Regions from separate parts of the Homo sapiens genome. Here regions 1 and 2 are each linked to region 3. Evidence: fine-mapped expression QTL. A gene starts in region 3. Each other region holds a variant in brackets. All regions are shown on one strand. Distances are from middle to middle.

Region 1 (2,772 bases), 71 kb before region 3:
ATAGGTCATCATTTCTACTTTGGACAATTTTTTATGAATTCTATGTTTGCCTTTAATAATTTTAATTGGTATAATTCTTTCAAAAATCCTTATTTTCAAATGGACAAAAATTAAAGGATGAAACATACTCTGGCCATGACTAACCATTTTACCTTAGATGTTTATAAATAACAGTTCAAAATTTCATCATTATATTACTCTCATTTGTAAGTTCCACTATATATATATATATATATATATAAAAAGTGTGTGTGTGTGTGTGTATATATATATATATATATATACACACACACACACACACACACATACACACACATATATATATATATATAATCTTTTTTTTTTGGAGATGGAGTCTGACTTTGTCACCCAGGCTGGAGTACAGTGGTGCAATCTTGGCTCACTGCAACCTCCGCCTCCCGGGTTCAAGCAATTCTCCTGCCTCAGCCTCCTCAATAGCTGAGATTACCAGCATGTGCCACCATGCCCAGCTAATTTTGTATTTTTAGTAGAGATGGGGTTTCTCCATGTTGGTCAGGCTGGTCTAGAACTCCCGACCTCAGGTGATCCACCCCCTCAGCCTCCCAAAGTGCTGGGATTACAGATGTAAGCCACCATGCCCGGCTCACAGTATTTTCTAATACTGGCAAAACAACATCTTCTGAACACAAACACTTATCCACAGATTCTCATTTCAATTTTCTTCTTATCAGTTGTCTCTTTTGCAAGTTGAATGATAATTAAGGTGTGGAAATTACTGACAAAGCCTAGATATAGAAGTGGAAATTTTCTAGAAACATCAGTTGTAAATCTTATTTACAGCGACATTTCTTTTGCAATTTTTATGTTAATATATGCCTTTTCCTAATTAATCTGGACAGTTTCATCTGAAGAGATATTTTAACAGAAGAATATAAAATGTATAAAGAAAATGCACAAACTGTCAAAATTCATCATCGTGTAAAAATAGCCATAAATTTAAAAAACTTCAGAATTACTAACATTGCATGTAGATATGATTACAGATATGGGACTATTATTTTGAACATCTTCTTTGTTGGTGATTTCTCTCATGTTGATAATGTAATTTGAAGGCTTAAAATGCATATGTTTAGATAGACTCATCAGGGGTAAGTTATTAGTGAAACAGGTGGTTGTTCTAATGAGGATTTAATACCAAACTAACTCTTGCTCTAAGATGTGTTATACACTTTCCTGATCAAACTGATGTGAAAAAAAAAAATGACAGATAACTAAAACTTCCTGATAATGAATGAAAAAACATCTGACATAATAAATTCTCAAGGATTTTTACTTAAACATAACTCCTGGATGTGTCTCATAAACAGTAGCCCCTAGAAACTCTTCTTTAATGTATTCAACAATCCCCACTGACCTTTGTTCAAAGTGCTCTGGGTATAATCCATTAAAGCATGAGTGTTTGTTATCTAAATTGGTATCTAAGGGGAAGCAATGCAATGTCAATGTAAAATAAATTTCTTTCTCTCCTCTTTGCCATAATCATGATGTATGCTTTTTTTCAGAATTGAAAACACTTTTCACAGTATAGACATCT[A/G]TAGTGTGTAAAACCATCTTTACAAAACCCATATATACAGAAAAATCTCAGTCTTCAATTTGAAGGTTCTTTGCCGTGCTAACATATGTTGTAGAGAATGACCACATAGTAATTGTCTAGTCTTTTCTCCTAACCCCAATAGGTAGGTATCAGAGACTCAAGAATTGTGCGACTCATAGAATAACTGCATATTCACTTTCTATAACTACATAGAGTTATAACTAAATTTCTTAGAAATTAGTTCGAATATGCTAAAATATATGAATAAAAATAACTGACTCCTTTTGTTTATCACCAAAGTTGTAATTCTCTAGACTTTCAGAAAATGAAGTAAAAATCCCTATTTTGTGTCTCCCCTTGGGCAGATTGCCAAGATCTCAAGTCCATTAGTTCATAACTTATCTTCTTCTGGTACAACTTCCAGTATTATTTGTAATGTTCTGGTTATTTTCTCTACAAAGAAATAAAAATGAATTAAAAATGCATGGAAATCAGAAATGCATTAAAAATAGCAAAATATGAATTATTTTGGGTTGAATACCAAAAACACACAACTGTCTACTTCATAGAGCACTTTCAAGAATTATTTACTTCATTAGAATTCTATCATGCTCAATTAATTTATTTGTCACTTCTGTAACTTCCCATGATGGCTTCTCAGCAAGAATACATTAATATTTTGCATTCAAATAAGGATTTTTATTCATGGACCAGAAGGGTGAAAATATTTTGAAACAGTAGGACCAATATATAAATAAATGTTTAAAAATACACTTTATATCAGTTTAAAATTGGTTTATTCTTTTTGCACCTATGAGATTACAATCAGTTCCTCAGAAGAATCTGGAGGAGAATCAGAATGTAATTTTCATTCTCTAACTTGTAACATGTTATTGAGAATGTTGTCTTATCTCCTAGGGCCTAATTTGCCTAATCAGTAGAATGAGAGACTAAATCAGTGATTCTCAAAGTGCGGTCCCTGGACCAACAAAATTAGCATCAACTACCATACTAGAAATGCATCTTTTCAAGCTCGATCCTAGACCTACTCAATTAGAAACTGAAGATGGGGCCTAGCAGTCTGTAATTCTGATAGACACAAAAATGTAGGAACTGAGGGCATCCCAAGAAAGGCTGGCTCCAGTGTTCAGAAGGAAGTCTACCTTTTTTCCTTCAGAACCATTGAGCTAGATGAT
Region 2 (2,772 bases), 21 kb after region 3:
TATATCACTACCCTGCCCTTGCTTCTTGCTTATGCCTTTGATTTTCCTCACCTCTTCACCCACTGTACACCGCCCCCAATCATTTCACACCCCCAAATAGCAACCACTCGGAGTTGTATATTTATCTATGACTAGCAGACTAGTGTGAAGTTTTGGTGCAAAGCAAATTGGAGAAGGGCCGTTTCCATATTATAGTGACATAGGGAACAACTTGGAATTAAGAATTAGTTATCTGATTTTAAAGCCTCTTAGCCATTTCTGACGTTGGAGACTTCACCCTTCTTTAATATAGAATGTCAACCATTGCCTAAGTTTCTAGATCTGTCGTTCCCCACCTACTTTCATCTTCTTTCTTGTTCTCAGGCTGCCTAGAGAAGCTCAAAATGCTTCTCACATGACCATTCATAGAAATATGTTTCCCTTTGCCTCACTTCCTACCCAGCCTATTCCTATGCTGAGAGACATTCATTGTTCAACCAAACGGATGGTCTACCATGGTGCTGGTCTCAAGAAACATATTCATTTCACCTAAGAGGAATTCCTTCTCAGTTCTTAAATTAACAGGTTATTTTTTTCTTCTTTCTTACAATTTGAAAGCAGAGTCGTAAAAGAAAAGTAAACATTAAAAAAAGAGCAAGCAAACAGAACAAAGTCTACAAGGAATAATATTGAAAGGTAAAATATGCTAGAATAAATGGTTTAAAAGTCCTGACTAGTGACTTCCAGTAACAGTGCTTCGTTGAAACCGTCATAATGGAATTCTCTCCAGCAAATAGCACAGTGCAACTTTTATTCAGTTTGTATGTGCATGTATGTGTGTGTATCCATCAGTTTCCGAAATTGTAGTAAAAATCTAAATATATGGTGTAATGCAACGTGAGGATGAAGGAAAAAGAATGTTAAGACTTTGGCTAAGTGGTAAAATCCATTAGCAGAAACCTCAAAACTGCAAGCATAATTATGACCCCTGAAAGTCAAATCAATTGTGCATGTCTGTGCGGGGAGTCAGGGTGAGGAGGAGTGGGGCTGAGTTGAAAGAAATGGGAAAAATGAATGTGATTGGTGAAGATGAGAACCTCTAAAGCAGCCACTCAAATGACAAAATACATCAATATGGTGCATTTGTTCTGTCTTTTTCTAAAACTTTGAACTGATCATTCTGCCAAATAAATGAACAAACTGAAACTTAGCCGTCTGTCCTATGCAGCCCTACAATGATTGAATGTACAACAGCTTGTGAAAGAACCAAAAAGGAAAGCCAGGCTGGAGCTAGCCAACAACATATATCATGTGGTAGGAAAGTGTCAA[T/C]GAATATGGAACTAACATTTTTTTTCGAAAAAGAAATGAAAAGAAAAAAAGATGACAGTTGTTCATGAGAAGGCTGAGAGGGAGAGGGCAGATGATAAGTAAAGCTGACTCAGAGAGCACATGGGTACAGTTTTGAAGTACAGCAGGTAGTTATGCAATGCTTGGTGATTACACCCTCAAATACAGCACGACAGGCAATAATTTAATTTTTCAAACCTCCATGTTAAAAGCAAGTTTTGAATTTGGCAGTGAGGCCTTTTCCTTCCACTAGTGTCAAGTGAGAGTGCAGCCATTTCATTTGAATGCCCAGCTGCAACATTCAGTGCATTTATCATAGCTAGATATTTGACCAAATTTTTGTGACTTCTATTTCTTGACAAGAATAGTAGTAAATTGGACCAGTTTTTGCTTTGAAGTCTTCATATTCAACAATGGAATAAGGGTTCATCTTGTACCTATTAGTATCACATATCTTTTCCTAGGAAACTGAGACAACACTGGTTTCCATTTTTAAAAGAGTTATAAATGTAAGGGGTACAAGTACAGTTTTGTTACATGGATATATTATACAGTGTTGAAGTCTGGGCTTTTAGTGTTGACTGTCACCTGAATAGTGTACATTGCATCCTTAGAGTACCTTCTTACCCTCACCCCCTCTCCCTTCCCTGCCCTTCCAAGCTCCAATGTCTGTTATTTCACACTGCATGTCCATGTGTACACATTATTTAGCCCCCACTTATATGTAAGAACATGCAGTATTTGACTTTCTGTTTCCGATTTGTTTCACCTAAGGTAATGTCCTCCAGTTAAGAAAAGGAAAGAAGGAAGGTGTATTAGCCCGATCTCACACTGCTATAAAGAACTGCCTGAGAGGGGGTAATTTATAAAGAAAAGAGATTTAATTGACTTACAGTTCCACATGACTGGGAAGGCCTCAGGAGACTTACAATCATGGCAGAAGGTACCTCTTCACAGGGTGGCAGGAGAAGAAGAAGCAAACAAGAGAGGAACTGCCAAACACTCATAAAACCATCAGAACAGCACGGGGGAAACTGCCCCATGATCTGATCTCCCCCCACCAGGTCTCTCCCTCAACACCTAGGGATTAAAATTCAAGATGAGATTTGGGTGAGGACACAAAGCCTGACCAGATCAGAAGGTAAGGAGGCAGAGAAGGAAGGAAGAGAGAAAATAAGATATATAGGTAGGGAGGGAGCAACAGAAAGGAGCCACTAAAAAAATAGATGTGCATGGCTGAGTGTTTTATGGTCATTTTAATCGAGAGTATGCTGTGTTCTGAAGTATATATCCTCCTAAAATTCATATGTTGAAAGACTAATCACTATGTGACAGTATTAAAAGGTGGGGCCTCAGAGAGGTGAATAAATCATGAGGGCTCAATGGGATTCGTGTTCTTATAAAAGAGGCCCCAGGAAGCTGCCTTGCCTTTTCCACCATGTGAGG
Region 3 (2,772 bases):
AGACAAAGAGCAACTTTAAAGTACAGAATCTTTCCCAAGAAGAGTAAATAAATCCTCATAGCATAAATCAAATTTAATGTTTGACAGTTCACCAGTTTTTATCATCTTTACAACAAACTCAGGTAGCTCTCTAGTAATTTGCCTACTCCATAAGGGGGCATTTATTTACCTCTTTACTATTAATTCTCAGATCAATAGAAGAGACATAAACTTTGAAGAAAAATTCATAATTATACTTCTGCCAGTTCCCTTCAGATTAATTTAGTGAACAGGTGGACAAATTCTCTGTGTCCCTGGAGAACAAGTGAAATATAATGAAAAAAACAGATCTGGGCAAGTACAGAAAACTAACGCCCAACTGAAGTTTTAAAACTTATATTGCAAAAGTGTATGGGTATTGAGAAGAGATGAAAGGTTGAAAAGTAATTTGAAATATGCTCAGGCCATTGCAATATACCCCATTATGATAGGGATTGAGTTATGCGCCATCATACATCTCTCCCATGTCAAGGACTTTTGAAAGGATATTAAGAGGTGACAAGCACATGAACTTAAAAAATATTTTTATAAAGACTGCCACCCATTTGTTTGGCTAATAAAAAGTCAGTAAGACTTCTGCTGAACACTCCGTTCTATGTCTAAATAGCCCATGCCAGGTTCCACTTCACAGGTGTCTCATTCAGCATGCCAGCTGCCAGAATGCCCAAGCTAAGTGTACAACTGCCCGGCACAGAAAGTGTGCATGTTTTTTACTGGGTCATGAAAGTTAGCCTTTGCTCTCATCACCACAGAGAAAAGTCAGAAGATAGCCTGTCTTAGTCAGGAAAAGAAAGTACAGCCTGTAGGAAGCAATTTGAGGGTGTTCCAGATCACACCAACAGCGGATGCTGCATCTGGGTAGTTCACGTACCCGAACAAAAATTTTAAAAATTTGGTGTGGCCTTTGCCATCCATTCACTCCTCAAAAACTACCATTTGCTTTCCCAGAAAGCAAGCTTTCCAGCCCCACAGCCACGCCCCCACGAGAGAAAAAGTCGCACTCACCAAATAGTGACAGGACCCCACACACCGTCCAGATGGTCAGAGACATGCCCACGCTGCCCGTGTTCTGGAGCACGCCCTTAGGAGAGATGAAGATTCCTGCTCCAATGATGGTGCCAATGATAATGGAGACTCCCCTCAGTAAAGTGACTTTCCTCTTCAGCTGCACTTTCTCCTGCCCAGGTGGCTCCTTGTTGCCCAGGGAAGGCAGCCTCCCGTTAACATTTCCCTGCAGGTAACCTCCTTTGGAGATGGTGGACACAACAGGCTTTCTGACCATAGTAGGGACACACGGGGGAAAAATAAAACAGAGGGAAAGAAAACAAAACTTTCAACTTTGGTGTCTCTTGGTGTTACTGATCGATGTCTTCCTCTGCTTTCAGACTGTCTCTCTCAGCGCTATAGTGTTCACAGGTGAAAACTCAAAGGTGTGCTTTTTCCTTCACAGCGATCTAATTACTACTCAGAAACACCTGTGTATGCATCGTGCTCTCAATTCTCCACCTCCTCGTTCCACCACTGCTGCTGCTGCTGCTGCTGCCGCCCTATCATTACAAACCAGCTCAGCTTCCTCATGGGCTTGTATTTAAGCGCCTGCCTGTCACACCAACTTACTACAGCTAAATGATGATGCAAATTCTCCAGGTTTGCATCAGCCACATGAGAAGCCTCCAGCATTACTCAGCTCTTTTTTTTAAAAAAAGAAAAAAACAGGAGGAGCTTGTTGCTCAACTGACCTAAGCTTTTTAGAGAACAAAGCACACACTTTAAAGAGATTTTAGCCAATCCAGAAGTAGTAAATTCGGAACAGACCTTCCCAGAGATTTAAAGCAACTCGTAGTGAGCAACAAAAGCTGTTCAAACAAAATGAAACAGGAAATAGTTACTTCATTTTAAGGAGTTTCTTTTTCTTTAATGCGTGTATAAAAACATTTTACATGCGACTGTTTTGTGAGTAGAATGTATCCTAAAGCTACATTGTTTATAACAACACAGTTTGAATTTCATAATTTGTGTAATGCTTTTTATTTTTTTATTTTGAGTTTTTTATAAGGCAATACAGTCAAATCCAATATTTACAAAATTAAAGATTCTACACTTTATACTTCTGTCACATACACACAACTATAAGCCTTCCTCAACATTAAAAGATAAAATTATTTCTTACTACTCATAATAAACCAGTATTTTAAATCACCATCCGAGTGTGACTAATACAAAATTCACCATGACTCCAGAAAATAGTCATTTTCTGATTCTCATTAGCACTAGGTGATTTTTTTGAACTATGTAAAAGATACATATCCTTCATTGTCATGTTGTTCCTTTGAATTACCAAAAAAAATTTCTAAGTTCAAAATTACACAATTACAATTACATAAAAATATGTATATAGCAAAAGCCTGTAAAGGAAAACAGAATGGTAGTTATAGAAAGTAATGATATTATGTATGACTTTTTTCCACATTATATAAACTATTGTTATTATTATAAATTTAAAATGCATTAAAAATGTAAGCTAAATTAAAATATTTACTTTGCAATAGTCAAAAAGGCAAAACATTTTTAAACCCTTCTAACTTTCTCAACCAAGTGTCAAGAAAAAACAAATATGAAAAGAAAAGAAATCCTAGATATCATTTTTGGCTATAGTTACATGTGGTTTTGGATTCAGTGAGAAGAATTGAATGTTATCATTACCCTGAAGCTACCTTTATACGCACCATTAAA

Which allele goes with the higher level. Positions count from the first base shown, and alleles are read on the strand shown. Sizes are in standard deviations (SD) of each study's normalised expression. Not every link is listed here.
For the expression in monocytes of the gene that starts at base 1,601 in region 3, allele G in region 1 goes with a lower level than allele A (large effect, 0.76 SD a copy in Quach 2016).

What was found.
Region 1: its variant is fine-mapped to the expression of SLC7A11 in monocytes (Quach 2016, PIP 0.95). The same link has a PIP of 0.9 or more in monocytes after LPS and monocytes after Pam3CSK4.
Region 2: its variant is fine-mapped to the expression of SLC7A11 in whole blood (TOPMed, PIP above 0.99).

What each region holds. Positions count from the first base shown.
Region 1 is chr4:138,169,989-138,172,760 of GRCh38, forward strand. SLC7A11 (solute carrier family 7 member 11) reads right to left here. Exons shown (of 12, transcript NM_014331.4): 12 at 1-2,029. The coding sequence ends at 1,968. It overlaps SLC7A11-AS1 (SLC7A11 antisense RNA 1), which reads left to right. Exons shown (of 7, transcript NR_038380.1): 5 at 1,545-1,718. Among named protein-coding and RNA genes, the nearest start is that of LINC00616, 41 kb to the left of the region's middle. The variant A/G (reference allele first, on the strand shown) is at 1,577.
Region 2 is chr4:138,262,202-138,264,973 of GRCh38, forward strand. No RefSeq gene overlaps it. Among named protein-coding and RNA genes, the nearest start is that of SLC7A11, 21 kb to the left of the region's middle. The variant T/C (reference allele first, on the strand shown) is at 1,309.
Region 3 is chr4:138,240,749-138,243,520 of GRCh38, forward strand. SLC7A11 (solute carrier family 7 member 11) reads right to left here and starts at 1,601. Exons shown (of 12, transcript NM_014331.4): 1 at 1,045-1,601. The coding sequence starts at 1,321. RefSeq lists enhancers at 947-2,146, 1,616-1,855.